Regions from separate parts of the Homo sapiens genome. Here all the other regions are reported to be linked to region 4. Evidence: microRNA targets listed by miRTarBase, many of them from high-throughput screens and not tested one by one. Region 4 holds a microRNA gene; each other region holds the end of a gene's coding sequence.
Evidence for each region. Region 4 holds the annotated microRNA hsa-miR-34b-3p (CAAUCACUAACUCCACUGCCAU, at 3,034-3,055, shown strand). A microRNA usually pairs through its seed, bases 2 to 8, with sites in the 3' UTR of a target mRNA and lowers its output. Matches are read on the target gene's strand: a 7mer-m8 pairs with bases 2 to 8, a 7mer-A1 pairs with bases 2 to 7 and ends in A, and an 8mer does both.

Region 1: miRTarBase lists WHAMM as a target of hsa-miR-34b-3p. Seed matches in the 3' UTR shown: 7mer-m8 at 1,554-1,560.
Region 2: the mRNA of GNE is a reported target of hsa-miR-34b-3p. Seed matches in the 3' UTR shown: 7mer-m8 at 2,533-2,539.
Region 3: the mRNA of TOR1A is a reported target of hsa-miR-34b-3p. Seed matches in the 3' UTR shown: 7mer-m8 at 2,615-2,621.
Region 5: the mRNA of CD300LG is a reported target of hsa-miR-34b-3p. Seed matches in the 3' UTR shown: 7mer-m8 at 1,988-1,994.

What each region holds. Positions count from the first base shown.
Region 1 is chr15:82,832,664-82,836,786 of GRCh38, reverse strand. It overlaps WHAMM (WASP homolog associated with actin, golgi membranes and microtubules), which reads right to left. Exons shown (of 10, transcript NM_001080435.3): 10 at 679-3,558. The coding sequence ends at 3,251. It also overlaps a transcript of HOMER2 not described here. Among named protein-coding and RNA genes, the nearest start is that of WHAMM, 25 kb to the right of the region's middle. RefSeq lists enhancers at 3,989-4,123, 3,302-4,123.
Region 2 is chr9:36,213,653-36,217,775 of GRCh38, reverse strand. GNE (glucosamine (UDP-N-acetyl)-2-epimerase/N-acetylmannosamine kinase) reads left to right here. Exons shown (of 12, transcript NM_005476.7): 12 at 176-3,335. The coding sequence ends at 411. LOC124902151 (a long non-coding RNA gene) reads left to right here and starts at 3,765. Exons shown (of 2, transcript XR_007061474.1): 1 at 3,765-4,123.
Region 3 is chr9:129,810,653-129,814,775 of GRCh38, forward strand. TOR1A (torsin family 1 member A) reads right to left here. Exons shown (of 5, transcript NM_000113.3): 5 at 2,290-3,570. The coding sequence ends at 3,320. It overlaps TOR1B (torsin family 1 member B), which reads left to right. Exons shown (of 5, transcript NM_014506.3): 5 at 1-629. Among named protein-coding and RNA genes, the nearest start is that of TOR1B, 9.5 kb to the left of the region's middle. RefSeq lists a silencer at 1,518-1,812 and an enhancer at 1,938-1,987.
Region 4 is chr11:111,509,954-111,514,245 of GRCh38, forward strand. It overlaps MIR34B (microRNA 34b), which reads left to right and starts at 2,985; the gene lies at 2,985-3,068. BTG4 (BTG anti-proliferation factor 4) reads right to left here and starts at 2,433. Exons shown (of 5, transcript NM_001367975.1): 1 at 2,228-2,433. It overlaps MIR34BHG (MIR34B and MIR34C host gene), which reads left to right and starts at 649. Exons shown (of 2, transcript NR_147706.1): 1 at 649-919; 2 at 3,065-3,935. MIR34C (microRNA 34c) reads left to right here and starts at 3,486; the gene lies at 3,486-3,562. RefSeq lists an enhancer at 89-1,288.
Region 5 is chr17:43,860,990-43,865,112 of GRCh38, reverse strand. It overlaps CD300LG (CD300 molecule like family member g), which reads right to left. Exons shown (of 7, transcript NM_145273.4): 7 at 1,474-3,315. The coding sequence ends at 3,202. Among named protein-coding and RNA genes, the nearest start is that of CD300LG, 16 kb to the right of the region's middle.

The DNA.
Region 1 (4,123 bases), not on the chromosome of region 4:
GGCTGCCGTTACCACCTGCCTGATTCCCTAGTTCAAATTCTGAAGAGAGAATGGACGAACAGATGAATACACAAGTCTGACTGGCCTAGCTCAATGCTTTTCACTCCAGGACAATCCATAGGATTGGCTGTACTAGGAGCAGATGCCAGTCCTCCTTTGTACCAGACTCCCAAGACAAAGTACATGGCTGTATAGGAGAGAGAGGTCAGAGAAGACCTGGCGGAAAAGGCTGTGGGGTTGAGACCTAAGGATGGGCATGGGTTTGCCAGGACATGAAGGGTGCAGGGAGAATTCCAGGCACTTAAGAGAGCAGGCCCTTTGGGGGCAGGCAGGAAGCAGCATGGTATTGCTGGACTAAAACCTGTGGCAGGGGCAGGGGCTGCCCAGGGGAGGCAACCAAGTCTCTGAGGGTTTTGTCTGCCAGGCTGAGGGGCTGCCCTTCCTGTGTGGGCTGGAAAGCCAGGGAGAGGTGAAGACTGGCAGTGCTTTGGAGGCCGACTGGAGAGCTCTGAAGCTGGGCAATAGGAGACACTTGTCCCCACTTCCTTGGCTCTGAATTCCCTGAAGCCAAAGTCTGGATTGACTTCAAGGCTTGGCTGGAAAAAGCAGGAAAAGGGAGAAAGGAAGGAGAGAAGGTTCCAGAGGAGGAAAGGAAGCGTTGATGCACAGAAGACACAATTGGGCCAGGAATTTTTATTGTGAGAACGTTCTTTTGAAAAGGATCCTTTTTTCAAAGGCCTCTTGTGTTTGGCAGCCCTTAGAAAGCAAATTCTGAGAATTATTTTAGCCTGATTAAGCTCGCTGGTATCTCAAAATACTGAAATTATAAATACGTAATTACAAACAATGCCAAACTGCAAAATATGCATAAGAAAAGTCCCACAAAGTTGTGATTTTGCTACTTTTTCAATTCCAAATTCTTTCCCTAGGAAGTTTGATGCTGAGCCTGGCCTGTCTGTGGTGGGGAAGGAGGCCTGGGCCACAGCCACTGGACCTGTCTCTGGGATCTGGACCTGATGCCCAGCGAGTAGCCCGCAGGTTGCGTCCCCCACTGGAACACCCCTGGGAACCTGGGTGGGAGCGGCAGGTACAGGGGCCAGTGCAGAGTCAGGGCTTGGCCCATCAGGCCTGGGCCAGCACAGTGAGGCACATTCATTCATACACAGGAGTTGGATTTGCATTCTGAAAAGGTAGCACACATGACAGACCCGTGGGCAACCTGGCAGTGGCTGGGAAACCTGGCAGTGGCCATGCCACAGAGGGAGACCCAGGCTGCAGCTGCTGAAAGGGACTCACGCCCCTCCCAGCTGTGCCAACTGAGGCCCCTCAGGCTGCTGTGTACCAGTTAGTTAAGACACTGGAAGGCCAGGTGTGGTGGCTCACGCCTGTAACCCCCAGCATTTGGGAGGCCAAGGTGGGAGGATCACGAGGTCAAGAGATCGAGACCATCCTGCCAACATGGTGAAACCCCATCTCTACTAAAAATATAAAAATTAGCTGGGTGTGGTGGCACACGCCTGTAGTCCCAGCTACTCGAGAGGCTGAGGCAGGAGAATCACTTGAACCCAGGAGGCAGAGGTTGCAGTGAGCTGAGATCGTGCCACCGCACTCCAGCCTGGTTGACAGAGCAAGACTCTGTCTCAAAAAAAAAAACAAAAAAACTGAAGTAGGAAGATTTCTGTTCTATATCAATCAGGACTTTCTTTGTAAACGAGGTGCGTTCCTTTTGTTCTGTGGAGACCCAGGAGTAATATCACCAGAGTGAGGGTGATGAGGTTAGTAGGGATGCTCGCAGTCTGAGAAATGAACGGACTGCTTTGCATCAGTCCCTTCCCCTTCCCTGATTTTAAAAATTTAATTTTAAGGAGAAAATACTTCAGCATGAGACTTCAGTTCCTGAGGAAAATAACACTATTGCTCCATCCTTAGTATTCACTTAAACAAATGTTTAGCTAAAATTTTATTAAAAACTTTCAGCCCACCCGGACACGGAAGACTTTGCTTTTACAGCAGCTAAGGTATGTTTTCATTACCCCGTGAGTGATGCTAATGCATTGCAAATAGTTATTATGAGTTTATGTAGTGCTTGGTGCCTAAAATAAATTTCATTTAAATATTTAAAATAACTCCTGAATATAAGCAATTTATTCTGATTACTGATAAAATAACATTCACATTCAAGCCTACAAATCTGAGAAATCATTATTCCATATGCACAGAAGGCCACAGTCAGTAGTCTAATAGTACTGCTTACCAGTGTAGTGTAAACTTCTTTCAGAATCAGGGAACAATTCTAGATCAGCCATGGTGAGAAATAAGTGCTCTTCTCTTAGGCCAGCGACACTTCCGATGGGTCTTGACATCCCACCTATGGGCTGGTGTGTGAAACTCTCATCTCTACGTCCCTCCCCAGTTTTAAGAGTCACCATGTCACATAAAAGCTCCAGCATCAGCCAGGCACGGTGGCTCATGCCTATAATCCCAACACTTTGGGTGGCCAAGGCAGGTGGATCACGAGGTCAGGAGTTCAAGACCAGCCTGGCCAACATAGCGAAACCTTGTCTCTACTTAAATATACAAAAATTAGCCAGGCGTGGTGGTGCATGCCTGTAATCCCAGCTACTCGGGAGGCTGAGACAGAGAATTGCTTGAACCTGGGAGGTGGAGGTTGCAGTAAGCCAAGATCGTGCCACTGCACTCTAGCCTGGATGACAGAGAGATTCTGTCTCAAAAGAAAGAAAAAAAAAAGGCTGGGCGTGGTGGCTCACACCTGTAATCCCAGCACTTTGGGAGTCTGAGGCAGGCGGATCACGAGGTCAGAAGATCGAGACCATCCTGGCTAACACGGTGAAACCTCGTCTCTACTAAAAAATACAAAAAATTAGTTGGGCAAGGTGGTGGCGCCTGTAGTCCCAGCTACTCGGGAGGCTGAGGCAGGAGAATGGCGTGAACCCAGGAGGCGGAGCTTGCAGTGAGCCAAGATCGCACCACTGCACCCCAGCCTGGGAAGCGGAGCTTGCGGTGAGCCGAGATGGCGCCACTGCACCCCAGCCTGGGCGACAGAGTGAGACTCCATCTCAAAAAAGAAAAAAAAAAAAAATGCTGCAGCAGCCTACACAAGGCCCTGCTGATCTTCCGGGGTGTTATGTGGCCCATCTATCAGCACCCTGTTAGTATGCTTTTCGATAGGTCTAAGACTCACCCACTTTATTCAAGCCTACTGTGGCAGGTGCCTTTGTCAAACTTGAGCCTAACCATCCCACTGGCCAGGGTCCTGCTCATCACTGTCCTCCTCAGAGTCAGCAGACACCCTCTTGATTCTCTGGAGCGCAGCCTTGATGCTCCTCTCAAGGTCACTGGTGCGTCTGTTGCTGGTTGGTTTGCTGCTGGGGTTTGGGCCAAGATCAGGGTGAACTTTCTTCAGTTTGACCCCTTGCCTTATGGCAGCCAGAATGTGCTCATTGATTGAGGCGTGGGGAGGGCGCACCGCCGGCACTTCCACCTTCCGGAGAGGAGCTCTGCCATGCCTTAAGGAGGCCAACACTTCATCCATAGATCCTGAAATTGAATAAGCAGAGCTAGTACTATCAATAAAACACTTTCCCTTCCCAGGACATTACTGCTATGAAATTGTGAAATCTCCTATCAGTTAACACCATGATTTAAACAAATAATCACTTCATTAAGCAAATGCCTTGATTACGTGCTAACGATAAGCTCCCTGGTTGAATCCAGGACAGCTGAATAGCTCATGTTTTAGCTTAACCACTTCCTTTCTGCTAACTTCTTCAAATCCATAGCAACTGACAGGAACAGACATGCACTTTTGTTAGAATGACGGTTTTTCAAGACAAATGTGATCTGTCCCTCCCATCCTGAAGAGTGTTACGGAGGCCTGGGGTGGAATAGTCTCACCCACTGTGCGTGACCTGGATACCTCTGAAGCTGTATCTCCTTCATTACCCTGTCCAGCTAAAAGAAATCTTTTAAAAAAAATTTATCCTGCTCAATTTAACTTCAGTCTTGGGTATTAGTCAGTGATGACTCATTCTATGACAATGAAGTGAGTAGGTTTCTACACATGAAAAGGCTTAAAATAAAACTTTAACCGGCAACTCAATGA
Region 2 (4,123 bases), not on the chromosome of region 4:
ATGATCATTTTCTCATATTAAGAATCAACCGTGAACTGCTTTTAAAACACTGCCTCCCACTGCATGCCGTGGATGTTCTTTAACATTTCTGCTGCTGGCTCTTTTCTGCCTTCCTCTTTGGTATTTTGATTTTGGCTTCTCTCAGAAACTCATTTTAATTTTTGTCTCCCTATAGCTGGAACAGCTTTGGGTCTTGGGGTTGTGAACATCCTCCATACCATGAATCCCTCCCTTGTGATCCTCTCCGGAGTCCTGGCCAGTCACTATATCCACATTGTCAAAGACGTCATTCGCCAGCAGGCCTTGTCCTCCGTGCAGGACGTGGATGTGGTGGTTTCGGATTTGGTTGACCCCGCCCTGCTGGGTGCTGCCAGCATGGTTCTGGACTACACAACACGCAGGATCTACTAGACCTCCAGGAACAGACATGGACCTTCTCTCCAGAGCTCCTGAGTGGAATCAAGTTCTTGTCTTTAGGATGACCGTTTCTTAACAATCAAATCTGGTATTGAACTGCAGGTGACTTTGGCAGAGAAATGTTTTCACTTTTGGTCTCCTCTTCCAGAGTCACCTTTCCCCACTCCTATTTTTGTAGATGCTATTCTTTCTGATGTCTTCTTACTAGGGGTCATTTTAGCTCAAACCCTGTAAGTTACAGTCACAATTTTCTGTGCCAAAGCAGCTACAATAATAGAGAGGAAGCCTTCTTAGAACTCTGCTTACTAATGTATTAATACCACTGAGACCTTCAGGCCTTGCCTGGGATATCACTTCATCCTGAAGTTTGCATTAATAATCCTTCCAGGCCGGGCACAGTGGCTCACGCCTGTAATCCCAGCACTTTGGGAGGCCGAGGCGGGCGGATCACGAGGTCAGGAGATCGAGACCGCCCTGGCTAACATGGTGAAACATGGTGAAACCCCGTCTCTACTAAAAATACAAAAAATTAGCTGGGTGTGGTGGCGGGTCCCAGCTACTCGGGAGGCTGAGGCAGGAGAATGGCATGAACCAGGGAGGCGGAGCTGGCAGTGAACTGAGACCGCACCACTGCACTCCAGCCTGGGTGACAGAGCAAGACTCCATCTCAAAAATAATAATAATAAATAATAATAATAATAATAATAATAATAATAATCCTTCCAGCTGGGCGCAGTGGCTCACGCCTGTAATCCCAACATTTTGGGAGGCCGAGATGGGCGGATCACCTGAGGTCAGGAGTTCAAGACCAGCCTGGCCAACATGGTGAAACCCCATCTCTACTAAAATACAAAAATTAGCCGGGCGTGGTGGCATGTGCCTGTAGTCCCAGCTACTCGGGAGGCTGAGGCAGGAGAATTGCTTGAACCCGGGAGGCGGAGGTTGCAGTGAGCCGAGATCATGCCACTGCACTCCACCCTGGGTGACAGAGCGAGACTCCGTCTACACACACACACACACACACACACACATCCTTCCTCCTCTAACCCCAAACTAAGATCACAGAAGGTGATCCAGTCAGAGAACAGAGGGAAATCTTACCAGGAAGGGCTTAAGTACACTTTTTTTTAAAACAGCTTTATTGTTTTTAAAGCCTACAATTTGATAAGCCTTGACATATGTATACCTGTGAAAGCATCACCACAATCAAGACACTGGACATATCTATCACTCCCCCATCTCAGATATCCCCCCTAATCCTGGATACCATTTGTTGAAAGATGTTATTACTCTAGCTGAACTTACAAGAGACTTTAGACCAGGGATCTAAATTACAGTGGCCTTAGTGACCTTGTCCTTATCTTCTTAGGACAGCTGAGAAGCCACTGGGACTTAGAGCCTTTAAAAGGAGATTAACTGTCCCAAAAGGATCTTTGCTACTGACCAGCAGACACTTCTTCCTTCAGTAGCCTTTCATACTGTGTTGAGTAACACCCTAGGGTGTCCATTAAAGTTTTGAGTTTTACCTAGAGCCCAGAGCCATGAATCAGGATTCTGTCTACATGATTCGTGTTTTCATTGGTGTCAAAATACAAAAGCCAAAGTTCTGGCTATGAATTGTTAACTTGGAAGAAATACTAACTGCCACCACTTATTAAGTGCCTACTGTGTGCCAGGCTCTGAACTAGGTGCTTCATATACATTATCCTAAATTATCTCAACATATGAGGTAGGTGTTTTAATTTTTATTTTATAGAACTTGGTGTGTTTGACTGTTAAGCTATGGGGCTAGAGAGAGGGTTTGATCCCAGGTCCCTCTGTGCTTTTGCTGCTGAGCCACACAACCTCTCATTTCAAAAACACTTTCAAAATGCTAACATATTCTAATTCACTCTAGGCCACCAAAAACTTTAATACTAATATCTGATTTGTAAATGACTTAATGTATCCTTGACCCTATCAGCTGAATTTAATGAAATATTCCTCTCTGCTGTGAAATTTTACCAGTATAGTATTTGGTCTAGTGACAGGTGTTCTATTTTTTTGAGACGGGTCTCACTCTGTCACCCAGGCTGGAGTGCAGTGGCTCAATGCAACCTCTGCCCCCCAAGTTCAAGTGATTCTCCTGCCTCAGCCTCTTGAGTAGCTGGGATTACAGGCACATGCACCACGCCCGGCTGATTTTTTTTTGTATTTTTAGTAGACAGGGTTTCACCATGTTGGCCAGGCTGGTCTTGAACTCCTGACCTCAGGTGATCCGCCCGCCTCTGCCTCCCAAAGTGCTGGGATTACAGGTGTAAGCCATCACACCTGGCCCTAGTGACAGGTTTTTATGGGTACTTTTAGATGATCTAAGAAATCATGTGCATATATCTTTCAGATTTCTATTTTGGGAAAATGAAGGTTTCTACAACATATTGTTTCAGTGTTCAAATAAACTGAAGGACTCAACATTACATTTGAACTATATCCTTCCTAGTGGGTTAGTGTGAAAAAGAGTTTGGCTGATTCCTAAAACTCTGCCAGCCCTGCAGTAATCTCCAGGGCCTGGTTATTGTTCAGACATTCCATGGTGATTCCTGGGAAGGAAGCTTGGCTGCTCAGTTTCTGAGTCTGGGGTGAGATAATGTTCTGGGAAGGGACATCTGTTCTTTGGTGTAATCTCTCATGGTGAAATCTGCTCTGTACATCAGACAATTGCATTGCTACCAAGTTTCATACCAAATATTTGAAAGGATGGTATTGAATCTAAAACCAAATATTAGTTTTTATTAAACTCATGGGAAGGCTAATATATTCCAACGTAAATTATTACATATGGTTAAGTAATTGCATGTTAATTTATTTTAATGTAAATATTTTTGTTACTGTTCTGAGCCAAATTCTAAAGAAAAAATAAATACATTTCCTTGTTGAAATCCTGTTGTATTTTGTTTTGTTCGTAACTCATTAGCCAAAAGCATTTTCCTTCCCAGAAGAGATTTAATTGTTGCACTGCTTACGTTTTGAAGGTTATATAACTTCCTTAAGGCCTCTAATATCATTGCTTTCTTAACCAAAAAAAGTCTATTAATAGAAAGCATGGCTGGGCATGGTGCCTCATGCCTGTAATCCCAGCACTTTGGGAGGCTGAGGCAGAAAGATTGCTTGAACCCTAGAGTTCGAGACCAGCCTGGGCAACATGCCAAAACCCCATCTCTACAAAACAATACAAAAAAAATTAGCCAGGCATGGTGCAGTCTCAGCTACTCAGGAGGCTGAGGTGGGAGGATCACCTGAGCCCGGGAAGTGGAGGCTGCAGTAAGTTAGTTATGATCATGCCATTGCACTCTAGCCTGGGCGACACAGTGAGACCCTGTCTCAAAAACAACAAAAACAAAACATTGCTATATATAACATTGAAAATTTGGCATAAAAAAGCAAAGTAGCCCCCAAGAAAGAGGTTTGAAACTAAGTGTTAAGCATTTACTGAGTCCCTAGACCCACTCCCTCTTTTTATGAGGCCCTATGTGGGTCTCATACAGGCATTAGAAACAATCCCAAATTACTATTGCTGTGTAACCTCAAAACTGAAGAGCTTAAAACAACAGTAATTGTTTCACGTCGTGGTTTCTGTGGGTCAGGATTTGGGAAAGGCTCAAACTTGACAGTTGTAGCTCAAGAGTATCCTGCACTTGTAGTTGTCAGCTGGAATAGCACGAGGCTG
Region 3 (4,123 bases), not on the chromosome of region 4:
GTAGAACCATTTGAAATCCTAGGATGTGCTTGTTCTGGAAGGATGACATGGGCCCAGACTGAACAAGTCAGCTTGATGATCTTAAATGATGGAAGTATAGGACGTTGCTTATTTTAAAACAAGGGAAGGACACAAAATGGAATGACTGCTTAGTCCTTTCTCAGATACTCTTAAAACAATTTTTTATTGTTAAATTTGTGGTAATACATGGTCACAACCGTGGATCAAACAAGGTCAGTCTAAAGTGGCAGGTCCTAGGTGTGACCTGATACCACCACCCTTTGTGGCAGCACCGGGCTGGACTGCCCTGATCCCTGGGACGTGAGACTTAGCTTCCAGCCAGTGTGAATCATTGTATCTGTCTCATAATCACAGCACAGCTGCAGACACAACAACGTGCAGCATTTTTTACATAAAAATATGGTAGAATTAATTTATGACATGGAAATGCCTTACGTGGTATCACACTTAGTCTTGAAAAAAACACCAAGGTGACGTTTAAAATTTTTAGTACATATCCTCAAATTGGAGCTAAGTTATACTTCTTTTATAACCTTTTGGGCATCTGGTCGAGAGAAGACAAGATTTTCTCTATTTACAGTGAGGCAATAAATATGTTTGCCACCTTTGGACTGCCGTTACTGATTTGTAACTTGAAAAGGCTACGGTTGATCATGACCCCGCCTCCCCCACCTCCCTTATAAGATGTGGACGAGAGCTTTATTGACCTACTGACTATAAAATAGTAAATTCTAGATTTTATCATGTGAAATGCCACTTGCTAACTTTTTCTAGTTTATTTGGTTCCAAAGTTCAGAATGAATTTCAGCAGCACAGCTGTGAGACTCACCATATCCGGGACAGGCGGGTGGGCAGTCAGCGCGATACAGAAGCAATATTTACCTTAAAGGCTCTTCCCCAGACAAATAGAAGTTAAATTAGCTGATGGATATTTCATCAAAGAGATGGACTTTCTCCCAAAATTAACGTGGGAGGAAATTGAGGTACTGGTAAAGTAAAACTCACCTCTGACAGCCTGAACCTGAGCTCAGGTGAGGAAACCTAACCATTGAAACTGGTAAATAAATCCTGGCCGGGTGCGGTGGCTCACACCTGTAATTCCAGCACTTTGGGAGGCCGAGGTGGGTGGGTCACCTGAGGTGGGGAGTTTGAGACCAGCCTGACCAACATGGAGAAACCCCATCTCTACTAAAAATACAAAATTAGCTGGGTGTGGTGGCACATGCCTGTAATCCCAGCTACTAGGGAGGCTGAGGCAGGAGAATCGCTTGAACCTGGGAGGCAGAGGTTATAGTGAGCCGCGATCGTGCCATTGCACTCCAGCCTGGACAGTAAGAGTGAAACTCCGTCTCAAAAAAAATTCTAGTTATGCTAATCTGATCTCAGCTTAATTACACATAATCCAGTATTGTCTCATCAGTGAATTGCTAACACCCACCCTCTTCACAGGATTAAGGATTAGCAGATTTACTAGAAAGCACAAACCCTCATCACCATCACCCCACCCACTCCCTTATTTTCTCAGCTGAAGTTACTCAATTCCCAGGAGACTGACTTTCTAGGTCTGGTTCTCAGTCTTAACGCAGTTCCTATTCTACCTACACTGCCTCATCTACTAAGACTGAACCTTCCAAAACTGTCAGGGGACCCGTGTTCTCTAACTAGGGACTTCTGGTGCCTGGGCCACACTCTTCAAAGGAATGATTAGACCTAATCTGTGACTCCCAGGGACATAGCAGGCTGGCTGCAGCTCAATACCAAGAACTTTCTAACGCTTGGAGCCATCTTTAGGTGCCCTGGGCTGCCCTAGGGGGACCCCATGCAGGCTGGGAAGCCATAAGGCAGAGGGTTCCTGCGTTAGACCTGCAGTCGAGGCCACAAACTCGTCTTCTGTGCCTACTAGAAGTGGCCCCTGCAGTGCTCTCTGCAGCAGCCGCACCCATGGGAGCACTGCCCACGTGCTGGGACACAGGCATGTTGGATAAAATAAGGTGTGCTTACCTTAGTCTACGGCACTGTTCCTGCTGGCATCTCAGCTGTACTTGAACTCCGTGGCTGGGTGTCAGGAGCTCCAAGAACCCCACAATGGAGGGCGACTTCCCAGACCACTGGGCGAGGGGACAGAGCCATCCTAGGATCCTCAGATCCCTGTGTGAGACTTCGTTTCTTTCCAACCTGGATTGTTCTGCTAGGTCTTCACTCGCAGCCTTACCTCATAAGGTCTACAGTGGAGGGGCGCTTCTCCCTCTTCAAAAACGTACTCACCAATGGCACATGCAAAATTTTATTGTAAAACGGTAGCCATTTGCATTTATAAAGAAAGACACCGTTCTCAGCATCCTCAGAAGGGGCAGCTAAGCTTTATAGGAGGTTTCGGGGATTCTGATTGAACGTAACAAATAATAGTATAAATGAGGAAGATTTAATATGGCAAAATTCACATAATTTAGAATCCAGCAGAGAGCACGTGTGGGCTATTTGGAATGGACAGTGAAGGGCCACCTTTTGCAAAACGGAGTGACTGGCAAGTGACAAGTTGGAAATACTTTTCTTTCAAAAGACTGGTTCTAACAAATGTTGACAGTGTGGCCAAAATCACTCCCACAGCTCCCATTGTTGCTAAGGTGAAAACCCTTGGAGAGGCTGTTTCAGGCTTATCTGTGGTGCCTGAAGGCGTCCTCTTACCTACTTGTCCTTCACCTAAACACTTCACTGCCCCTGGCAGCATCCGCTGGGACCATCCTGGGACAGAGCTGGCTCATGCTCCAGCCACATCCCCAGGGATGCCCTCCTGTGGAACAAATGCCATGCATGTGTGCTTGGGCTCATTTCCAGTAAAGATACATCACAGTCTATGTAATAATGATGAGAACTTAAAAAAAAACACACACACAAGGCCAACAACTTAGAATCTGAGCAGTCTCTCATAATGTTAAAAATCATTTTAAATAAAGTTACCACATTTTCAATAAAACTTATTCATCCTTCCTTGAAACAGAAACACTTGGAATTAAAACATAATTTGTAAAAAATCATGAGCCCTGCGATGAGTGGGCTGGGAGCTGGCTCCTTCCTTCTGTGCGTGTTCGGGAGGCTTCACGTCCTCGCCCGTGGTCCCTGGGTGGCCTGCAGGCACCAGGGGGTGGAAACAATGCCAGGGAGAATTCCTGTCACATCAAACAGGAACATTCACTGGATTCCTCTTCCAGGGAAAGGAGCTGGGGGTGGAAGTGTGGAAGGACTGAGTGTTGTTTCTTTTCCAACTCCAGGCAGTGACTCCGGCTGCCAATCATGACTGTCAATCATCGTAGTAATAATCTAACTTGGTGAACACCGTTTTGCAGCCTTTATCTGAGAAAACTCTCTCCTCTTTGGGGAAAAATGTCATCTCCTCAGCCACTCTGCTTACAATGTCTTCATCAATTTCATAGCCTCGGGACTGCATTTCCACTCGGATACACATTTTTAGGTGTTTGTATTCCAGGGGGAGGAAGGGAACAAAATAATCAATGAGGTTCCGGTCAATTAAGCTGCTGTGCCAGAAGCCACCTGGGAAGAAGAAACAAGGTGCTGTTCATCCACATCCACCCACCTGCCCTATAGACGCCTCCTGGGGGTCACTTACCTACCCTCCCATCCGTCCCACAAACGTCTACTGGGGGTCACCTATCCATGCCACACACACCTACTGGGGGTCACCCACCCACCCCCCCCACATCTACTAGGGGTCACCCACCCTCCCATCCATCCCATACACACCTACTGGGTGTCATCCACCCTCCTATCCATCCCATACACATCTACTGGGTGTCATCCACCCTCCTATCCATCCCACACATACCTACTGGGTGTGCCCTCTCCCTTGTGGAGCTCCAGATCAGTGGGGAAGGCAGATGTTAACAGGCACCTGCACATTGTAATGCTTCTGTGACAGCAGAAGCTGTGACAGCCCTCTTTACACGGCGGGCTGGGGGAGGCCTCCCAAGGTATGACTTAAGAGATCGAAGATGGGAAAGAGGTCCTGGGGCCCAGGAACAAGCAGAGAGGCAGAGTGGGGAAGGCAGAGTTCCACAGAAAGCGGGAAGCAAGAAGAATTCCCGGG
Region 4 (4,292 bases):
CAGGCTGGAGTGCAGTGGCACGATCTCGGCTCACTGCAACCTCTGCCTCCCGGGTTCAAGCTATTCTCCCACCTCAGCCTTCCAAGTAGCTGGAACTACAGGCGCGCACCACCACGCCCAGCTGATTTTTGTATTTTTAGTAGAGACAGGGTTTCACCATGTTGGCCAGGATGGTCTCTATCTCTTGACCTCGTGATCCGCCCGCCTTGACCTCCCAAAGTGCTGGGATTACAGGTGTGAGCCACAACCCCCGGCCTGTCTCCACCTTTTCTAATTCCCAATTCCCATCAATCTAGTCTTGTATCTAGAAGTGGTAAATTAAGTCAATATAAATGTGCCAAAGCTAAAGCAGAAGGTATTTGTTTTCTACACTCTTCTTGGCTTCCTCCTAGTCATCAACCTTGTCTCTCCTGATAGCTCCTTTTCCATCTCCCTAATCACCAAAAGCCCAGAAATTAAAACAGTAAACAATTCCCCTGAAAGGTGCCTTCCTTGTACTGTCTAAAACAAATGCAATCCTCTGTGTGGGCATTTAAAACACCACAAGCATTCTTACTTAGATTAAATCATGGGTCTCCCTGGTCTCCAGGCATGCCTAGACATGAACCATAAAGGGAATGAGATCCTTGGAGTTTCTCTAGTAACTGCAGGCCAAATCAACAGCAACCCTAAGAACAAGCATTCTTTTTTTTTTTTCAACAGAACTAGGCCACACATATTTTTTGTCGTTATTTAAATTTTTAGTTGTACTACATAGAAAATAAACTCATTTTAAAAAGTTATTTCAGTAGGCAATGCATCTTCATGACTTTTACATATGAGTTTTATTTTTTATTACTTTTGAAGAAAAGTCTGTAGAAACCTACTTTTCAAGGCATCTGACCCAACCATTGCCTTGGATGGCAGCAATCCAGCTCAGGTAAGATATTTAAGATGCAACTAATAATCATAAAACATCAGTTGGGAAGAAGTGTTCGATATAGTATTGGGTAAAAGTGACTAACAATTTGGTAGAAGAGAATCATTTTTATAACTATCTCCTAACCAAGATTTCTCTAAGTCTGCATATTGTTAATGGAATGAAGACTATTTTGCTCCTAGTTTCATGTATGTATATTTAGGTGAATGTGAGTCATTTATGTAATGTGTGCTAAAACACCGTGCCCCTCACAAAGATAAGATGAATACAAAATACAGTTATTGTAGATGGCTTGTCTTTCACAATTTAATTCTACGAGTTAATTTTTACAATTAACATTTTCTGTGCTACATATTTTGTATTTTGGTTTCTTTCCCTTCACTATGGGGTGTACAGAACAAAGTATGCATTTGGAAAAAAAGTGCTGTCTTTCATATGCAAAGAAAATGCTATAACTTATTCAAACATCCTTGGGCAGTTCTTTAGTTGTTTTAATAGTGTGAGTTTGTAGTTTGTATTGAATGATCCAGATGACCTGCCCCTGTTCATGTTACTTGTGGCATCTATGAGACCATTTGCTGGTTTTAGGGAATCAATCTATAGGTGGGAAGTTTTCTTTTGCAGAAACTAATTTAGAACTAAGCCTTTGGTGTCAGCAATGGGTGCTCTATACTGGATGCATGAAGACCATATTTCTAGGGGAGGCTGCTTCCAGCTGAATTTCACAAGGTGAGGATAAAGAGAACATTCCTTATCCTCTCCTGATTAATTCATTAAAGGCAAAGGAGGGGAAGGAAAGTTATTAGCAGAGATCTCCCAGAAGTCCTCTGTAACTGTCCCTTTTGCCCAACTGTCACAAGATACTGTTTTTCTGGCATCCACAGCCCTAACCCTGAATATCCAAATGTACTCGTGCATCAAGGATCTACTCAAGTCTCACCTCCTCTGGGAACCTTCTTTGACCTATTACAGCTCTCATTGAGGACCTCCCTTCTATTTCTGATACAAATAGTTTCTACTATTCTAAATAGTCCCTAGTTTAGTAATTTATTATATATATACTGTCTTGAATGGTATGGCCTTGATCTCAAGAGGACCACGATTTGATGTAACTAACAAGCTGCCTGGCTCACTATTTGACTAGAAGGCCCAGGCTTCACATCACTGCATGGCCCTCTAAGAGTATAAGGCCAAGTCCCCAACAGAGCACAGAGGTGCAGATGAGACTCTCCAAGCCATCCTCCCATATGTCAGAGGCTACCCAAGCCCACCTCCATTTGGAAAATTCAAACCTATAATTTGAGGTACCTGGGAAGCCGCTTTCCCAGGGCGGAATGGTCACGGAAACTGGGTAGGCTGGGGGCCTTCTTGGGGAATGAGGGAGTGGAGGAGCTCTTTGTCCCTCCTGCTAGATCAGAAAGAGAAACGTCTCAAGAATCTGGGCCTCCATCTTCTAGGCGTCTCCCTTGGAGGCCCTTCAGGGACCGCCCACAGCGCTTTCTCTCAGCCTCCTCCCCCCCCCCATCCCCTCCCCCACCCGCCCCGTCTCGCGCCCGCCCCGCCCCTCGGCCCGCGGGGTTCCAAGGACGGTTGGTCGCCCCCGCCACAGTCACTCGGCCGCTCAGAGCGGCGGGGCGCACGGGGTCGAGAGAGCCAGCTCTAGGGTTTGGGGCTGGGAACTGAAGCCTGGCGTGAAGGAAGTGGGAGCCCGGGCCGAGGAGGCGAAGGGGAAAGGAAAAGCGAGGGGAACCTGAGCGGGAGGGCCCTGAGAGGAGCGGGAGGCTGCGGGAAGGGGAGGCCTGGCACTCCTGGGGGTCATGGGGGTCGGGGCGCGGCTCCCGGCCTGGGAGGGCGCGGGTCCTCCCCGGCAGCGCCGCCCGCTGGCCCAGCTACGCGTGTTGTGCGCTGCGAGGCCGGCGGGGGTCCCGCTGGGCCCGGGGGTGTCCTCGGGGGCCGCTTGCGCCCAGCCATGGTAGGGCGTCCCCCGGTGAAATGGGGTCCGAGGCGGGCCCCGACCCCGCGTCGGCGCTGCGGACCGTCCGGGAGCTGCAGCCGCGGGTGCCCGGTGCTCGGTTTGTAGGCAGTGTCATTAGCTGATTGTACTGTGGTGGTTACAATCACTAACTCCACTGCCATCAAAACAAGGCACAGCATCACCGCCGCCCGGCCGGGAAGAAGACGCCGGCTCGGGCAGCCCGCAGCCTTCGAGAGAAGATGCCTGAGAAGCGCGGCGTCGGCGTGGGTCCTGCGCAGCCTGCCCCGCGAGCGCCCGCTGCAAGTGCGAGGAAACCCGCGGTTTCTCCAGATACAGTTAAACTGTTAGCTCTCTCTAGGAGTCACAGAAGATGAAACAGTCTCATGCCAGGAAAGCAAAATCCCTGGAGGTGAAGCCCCTCCATCCATGTAACGGTTAATACTGTATGCTGTGATTCACTGTGTCTATTTGCCATCGTCTAGTAGAGTATTCACCAAGCTAGCAACTCAGTTGAGCTCCAACTCAACCAATGAATTGCCTGCCTGTCACAACGTGTTGGGGTACCAACTTGAGACTGCAATTTTTTCTATGAGTCTAGTTACTAGGCAGTGTAGTTAGCTGATTGCTAATAGTACCAATCACTAACCACACGGCCAGGTAAAAAGATTTGGGAATTCGTCCAAATGAGCTGCCTGTGCATCATCAATGTGCGTGGGGAAGAGGGGTGTTGGAAAATGCTGATTTCATCCATTGCCTATTAATTGCTCAGCCAAAAGAAAAAAATCAACATTTCAGCTACTAAGTTTACAATGTATGTAATGTGTATGTATGTGGGGTTTTGTTTTGTTTTTTTTTCAATATTCCTTCAGGCTCTTAACCAAAATTTTAGATATAAGGGGGAATATGATTTTTTTCTTAGCTGACTGATGTATGTTATTATATGAACATGTGATTATTAACTTCTTGAGACTATATTGTTAGTAATATTTTGAAAGTAATATTGTTAGTAATATTTCGAAAGAATAAAGTGCCATAAAGACATAAATTGTGGTTATTGCTATGTGTCCATTTCCTTTGCTAAATTGACTTTATGATGTCCATCTCAGTTCCTGCCACAGTAATCTTAACTTTTCTATCAATGAAGTGGTTAAGTTGTTCCTGCCATGACAAAAATCTCCCGGGAAAGCTACTCATACACACAGACTTGTTAATACTTTTATAAGAAATACATTAACAAAATTTTTCATACTTCTTTTTTCCATGAAGAGACTCTGTTCACTCATTAAGATGTATCCCTTCTTTTAAGTAATCATTTACAACTGTTGGAGTCTATGCAACTTTTAGTGGGAGTGATTAGTAAATGCACTTACACTTTAAATCCAGCTTGTTTCCTAAGAT
Region 5 (4,123 bases), not on the chromosome of region 4:
CAAAAGTCCCTCATTCTCAGGATAGGTGAGCAGTGACTTGTTGCTTCTTTTTGTTTAAGGGGATTGAATAAAATCTCACGTAAATACCAAAGACTGCAGATCTGAGTATTCAAGTACAAACATCAAACCAAGGTGTATCAAAATGGGGGATTGCAAAGTGTCAACTGGTAAGGGAGTGGTCTTTCTCCCCTACCTGTCAGGAGGGAGCTGGGCCCTCTTGGTGGTACTGTGGGAATAAGAGAGTGTCTCTGAGTAATATTTATGTGTCTCATAAATCCACTGAAACTTGGAATTCCATGGATGCCAATCCTAGGTTGCCTGGGAGAGAGCTCTGCCTCTCAGAATATGTCAATTTATTCAGCCCAGTCTGCAAATGGGTGAGGGATGGGAGTGGGATGGCCAAGCTGACCACCTCCTGGTTCCCAGGAAGCCCCGGCTCCAGTAGGTGAGGAGAGATTCAGAGGACAGGAGGGTTCTTTCCTTCCAGGGAAACCCCAGCCAAGGGATTTTTCAGGGGGGAAGCCTGCTTTTGATGCACTTCTAGGGTGCATTCTGACAGTGTGTGTGCCCAGGTCCCAGCAGAAGATTTGGGACCATGTGAAACTTGCTGCTCCCTATGTCCCAAACACCTTGGCACACACAGTGCCTGGAGCCTGGGTGCAGCACACAGAGTTCGGGCCTGGGAGCTCACTGTCCACCCAGAGAAGGTACTTGGTGCAACCCCAACCCAGAGGCCTCGGGCACAGGCTGGCACCTTCTGGTGAGCTGCTCTAGCTTCATCAGACCAGTTCCACCTCCACCCAGTCCCCCAGGCCCTCGAGGTTCTGATCACAGGGCCATTATTGAACTGTTTCTCCTGCCTTTCCAGCAGGGACAGGTGCAGAGGACTTCAAGAAACACTGATTGCAAGGGTCTGGTGGGGGTGAAATTGGTGCTGCCACTCCAGAAAGCTGTTTAGCAAGAGGCATCAGTAACTTCAAAAATGTTCACTCCCTATGACCTGGCACTTCCATGCACGCAAATCCTTCTTTAAGAAATCTCCCGGCCAGGTGCAGTGGCTCATGCCTGTAATCCCAGCACTTTGGGAGGCTGAGGCAGGCGGATCACTTGAGGTCAGGAGTTCAAGACCTGGCCAACATGGTGAAATCCCGTCTCTACTAAAAATTCGAAAATTAGCGGAGCGTGGCGGCAGATGCCTGCAGTCCCAGCTACTTGGGAGGTTGAGGCAGGAGAATGGCTTGAGTCAGGGAGGTGGAGGTTGCAGTGAGCTGAGATTGCATCACTCAACTCCAACCTGGGCGACAGAGCAAGACTCTGTCTCCAAGAAAAAAAAAAAAGAAAAAGGAAAAGAAATCTCCCAATGCAGATAAACCCCCAGGCAAATTTCACCCACACTTATCTACAATAGCAAAAATGGAAGCAAATTAAATATCGAGTGATAGACTATTGGTTAAATAAATTGAGACACACTGATAGGATGGAATATGCAGCTGATGAACATTTTATTTATAAAAAGGTCTGTAAAACACAGAGAAGTGCTGGAATAAAGTGATGGAACGATAAGGTGGAAAAGGCAGGATACAAAGTTGTATATACAAGATAATTGCTCTGTAAAAAGAACACCGGCAAATTATGTGAAGAAGAAAAGAGTGGAAGGAAGTACAACAAAACGAAATAATGATAGTCTCTGGTGAGACTATGGGTGACATTTTTTTCTTCCTTTTCTTTTTCTCCTCCATCTTTCCAAGTTTTGCATACTGAACAACTCTTAATTTCACTTTTTAAAGGAAATAGGGCCAGACACAGTGGCTCATGCCTGTAATCCCGGCAATTTGGGAGACTGAAGCAGGAGGCTCATTTGAGGTCAGGAGTTCAAGACCAGCCTGGCCAACATGGTGAAACCCCATCTCTACTAAAAGTACAAAAATTAGCCAGGTGTGGTGGTGCGTGCCTGTAATCCCAGCTACTCGGGAGGCTGAGGCAGAAGAATCACTTGAACCCAGGAGGCGGAGTTTGCAGATCGTGCCACTGCACTCCAGCCTGGGCAGCAGCACGAGATTCTGTCTTAAAAAACAATAATAATGGAAAAAGAAAAAAAATAGTAGTTGTGCTACTTTACCCCCACCCCCGACCCCTTCTCCAGGGGGCTGGACTCGGAGTCACCTTCAGGTATCCGCCCTGTTCCTACTCTCCTCTGTGTTAGACACCTACGTGCACTCTGGTTTTCTACTTTTCTCTCTAGCCACCAGAACCCATAGGCAAGTAACCCTTTCCAGACAAGGAAGGAGCCAAGGTTTTCTTCATCATTTTTCCAAAGGCAAGAAGGCATGGCCAGGGAGGGCAAATGGAAAGGCAACCACTCTCTGCCGGTCCTGGGCTTATCCCTGCAATGTGCACCTGACCTGACCAAGGCCTGGACTTAGGCAGGCCTCAGGGGAGTCCCCAGCTGGATCTTGGTGTCGCAGACAGAGCAGATCTTATTGGGGCAGGTGGGAGACGTCACAGCCCAAATGCAGACTCTAAGCTGGAGGGGTCTGAGCGTTCATCAGGCCCACTGGCCCTCAAACTCAAGTGCGACAGTCACTGGGCATTGTTAGAAATTCAGAGTCCTGCACCAAGCCCCAGAGATGGTTTTGGTGGGTCTTGGTGGGGCCCAGGAATCACGTTTTTCACAGGCTTCCTGAAGGGCTGGGATGCAGGTGGTTCAAAGAGAAGCCAGAATCCCAGTCTCACCCCAGCATGCTCCTCTTCATCACCAGCTGATGCAGGAGACCGTGGGACTAAGTCTGAGGACGCCAGGGAGGGAAGACAAGGTGGGGTCTGGAGTGGGAGGAAGGCAGGGTCCGACACTGGGCATGAGGCCCAGGAGTTCCTGGCAGATTGAAACTCAGACCAGATCCACTGAGCCTTGTCTGGCCCTGCTGAGGGTCAGCAGCCTGGTACTCTGCCCAGGGATGTGAACCTATCAGGGATGTCCCAGTCTCCAGCCGGAAGAGCAAGGCCACCGCTCTGGGCTCCAGGGCTGACAAACGCTTCTAGGTCAGGCTGGAACATGCAAGAGGAGAGCCTGGGGAGGGTGGGGAGAGCCCTGGAGTCCGGGCAGCTGGACTCTGAGGCTGAGGTGGAAAGCTTTCGGGAATCGGTGCTGATCCAGCCAGCCATACTGCTTCACTGCTGGCCTGGCCAGGAGGGCCTCCTGCCCTACGCTGAGACAAACTTCGAGAAGCCCAGCTCCTCCTCAGATGTGTGGAGGGGAGGCATCGAGATCACGTCCCCCTCAGGGGCCTGGGAAGGGGCTTCCTTTTCCTCCGCAGTCTGTAAAGACAACAGTGGGGTTTGGAGAGCAGAACCCAGATGAAGGGGTGGGAGGTGTGAGGGGTGGTCCCCAGGTAGCTGCTGCGTCCACCCAGCCTTTTCCACAAGTTCCAGCCCTCCGTCCATCTGCAGAGGCACAGGACCTAACAACTCCCCAGAACTCCCAGGCTTTGATTCATGGCCTCTCATGACCCCAATCCATCCCTCCCCCGGGGTGCCCTCAAGGCCCCAGGCTGGGTTCTGGCGCAGTTGTGGCCTTGAGGGCAGTGCAGCCCACAGCACTGTCAGCTGTGACTCCCAACAAGCTATTCAGGAATTTTCTGGACCGGAAAAAAAGAGGATGTGAGGTCAAAAGCTCTGGCTTCCCAGGTGAAATGGGCTAGGCCTATGGCTGTGAATGGGGAAGGTGGGTAGATGCGGGGGTGTGGGGTTTGGGGAGCAGATGCTGAGGAAAAGGCCTCCTTCCACTTCCTCTAATTGTCAGAGTGGAGGCAGGCAAGGTGGCTCCTCAGCCCCTCCCTTCCCAGGGCCCTTCTGTCCATACTTGGCTTAGATACTGGATCTCTGTGTAGAGGCTGGGAGAGGGCTCGGGGATGGTGAGAGACCCCATGGGCCCTGCAAGGTTGATCACAGCGTCCTCTGGGTCCCGGCCATTCCCCAGTGGCTGTAACAGAGACTTGGTCAGAACAGCCTGTTCTTGGCAGCAGGGATGGTCTGCTAGCCCAGCCAAGCCCAAGCAAGATGAGGGAAACGTGGGAGGGGTGGGCAAGGCAGGGAGGTGCCGGGAGGGGAGAATACTAAGCTCCTG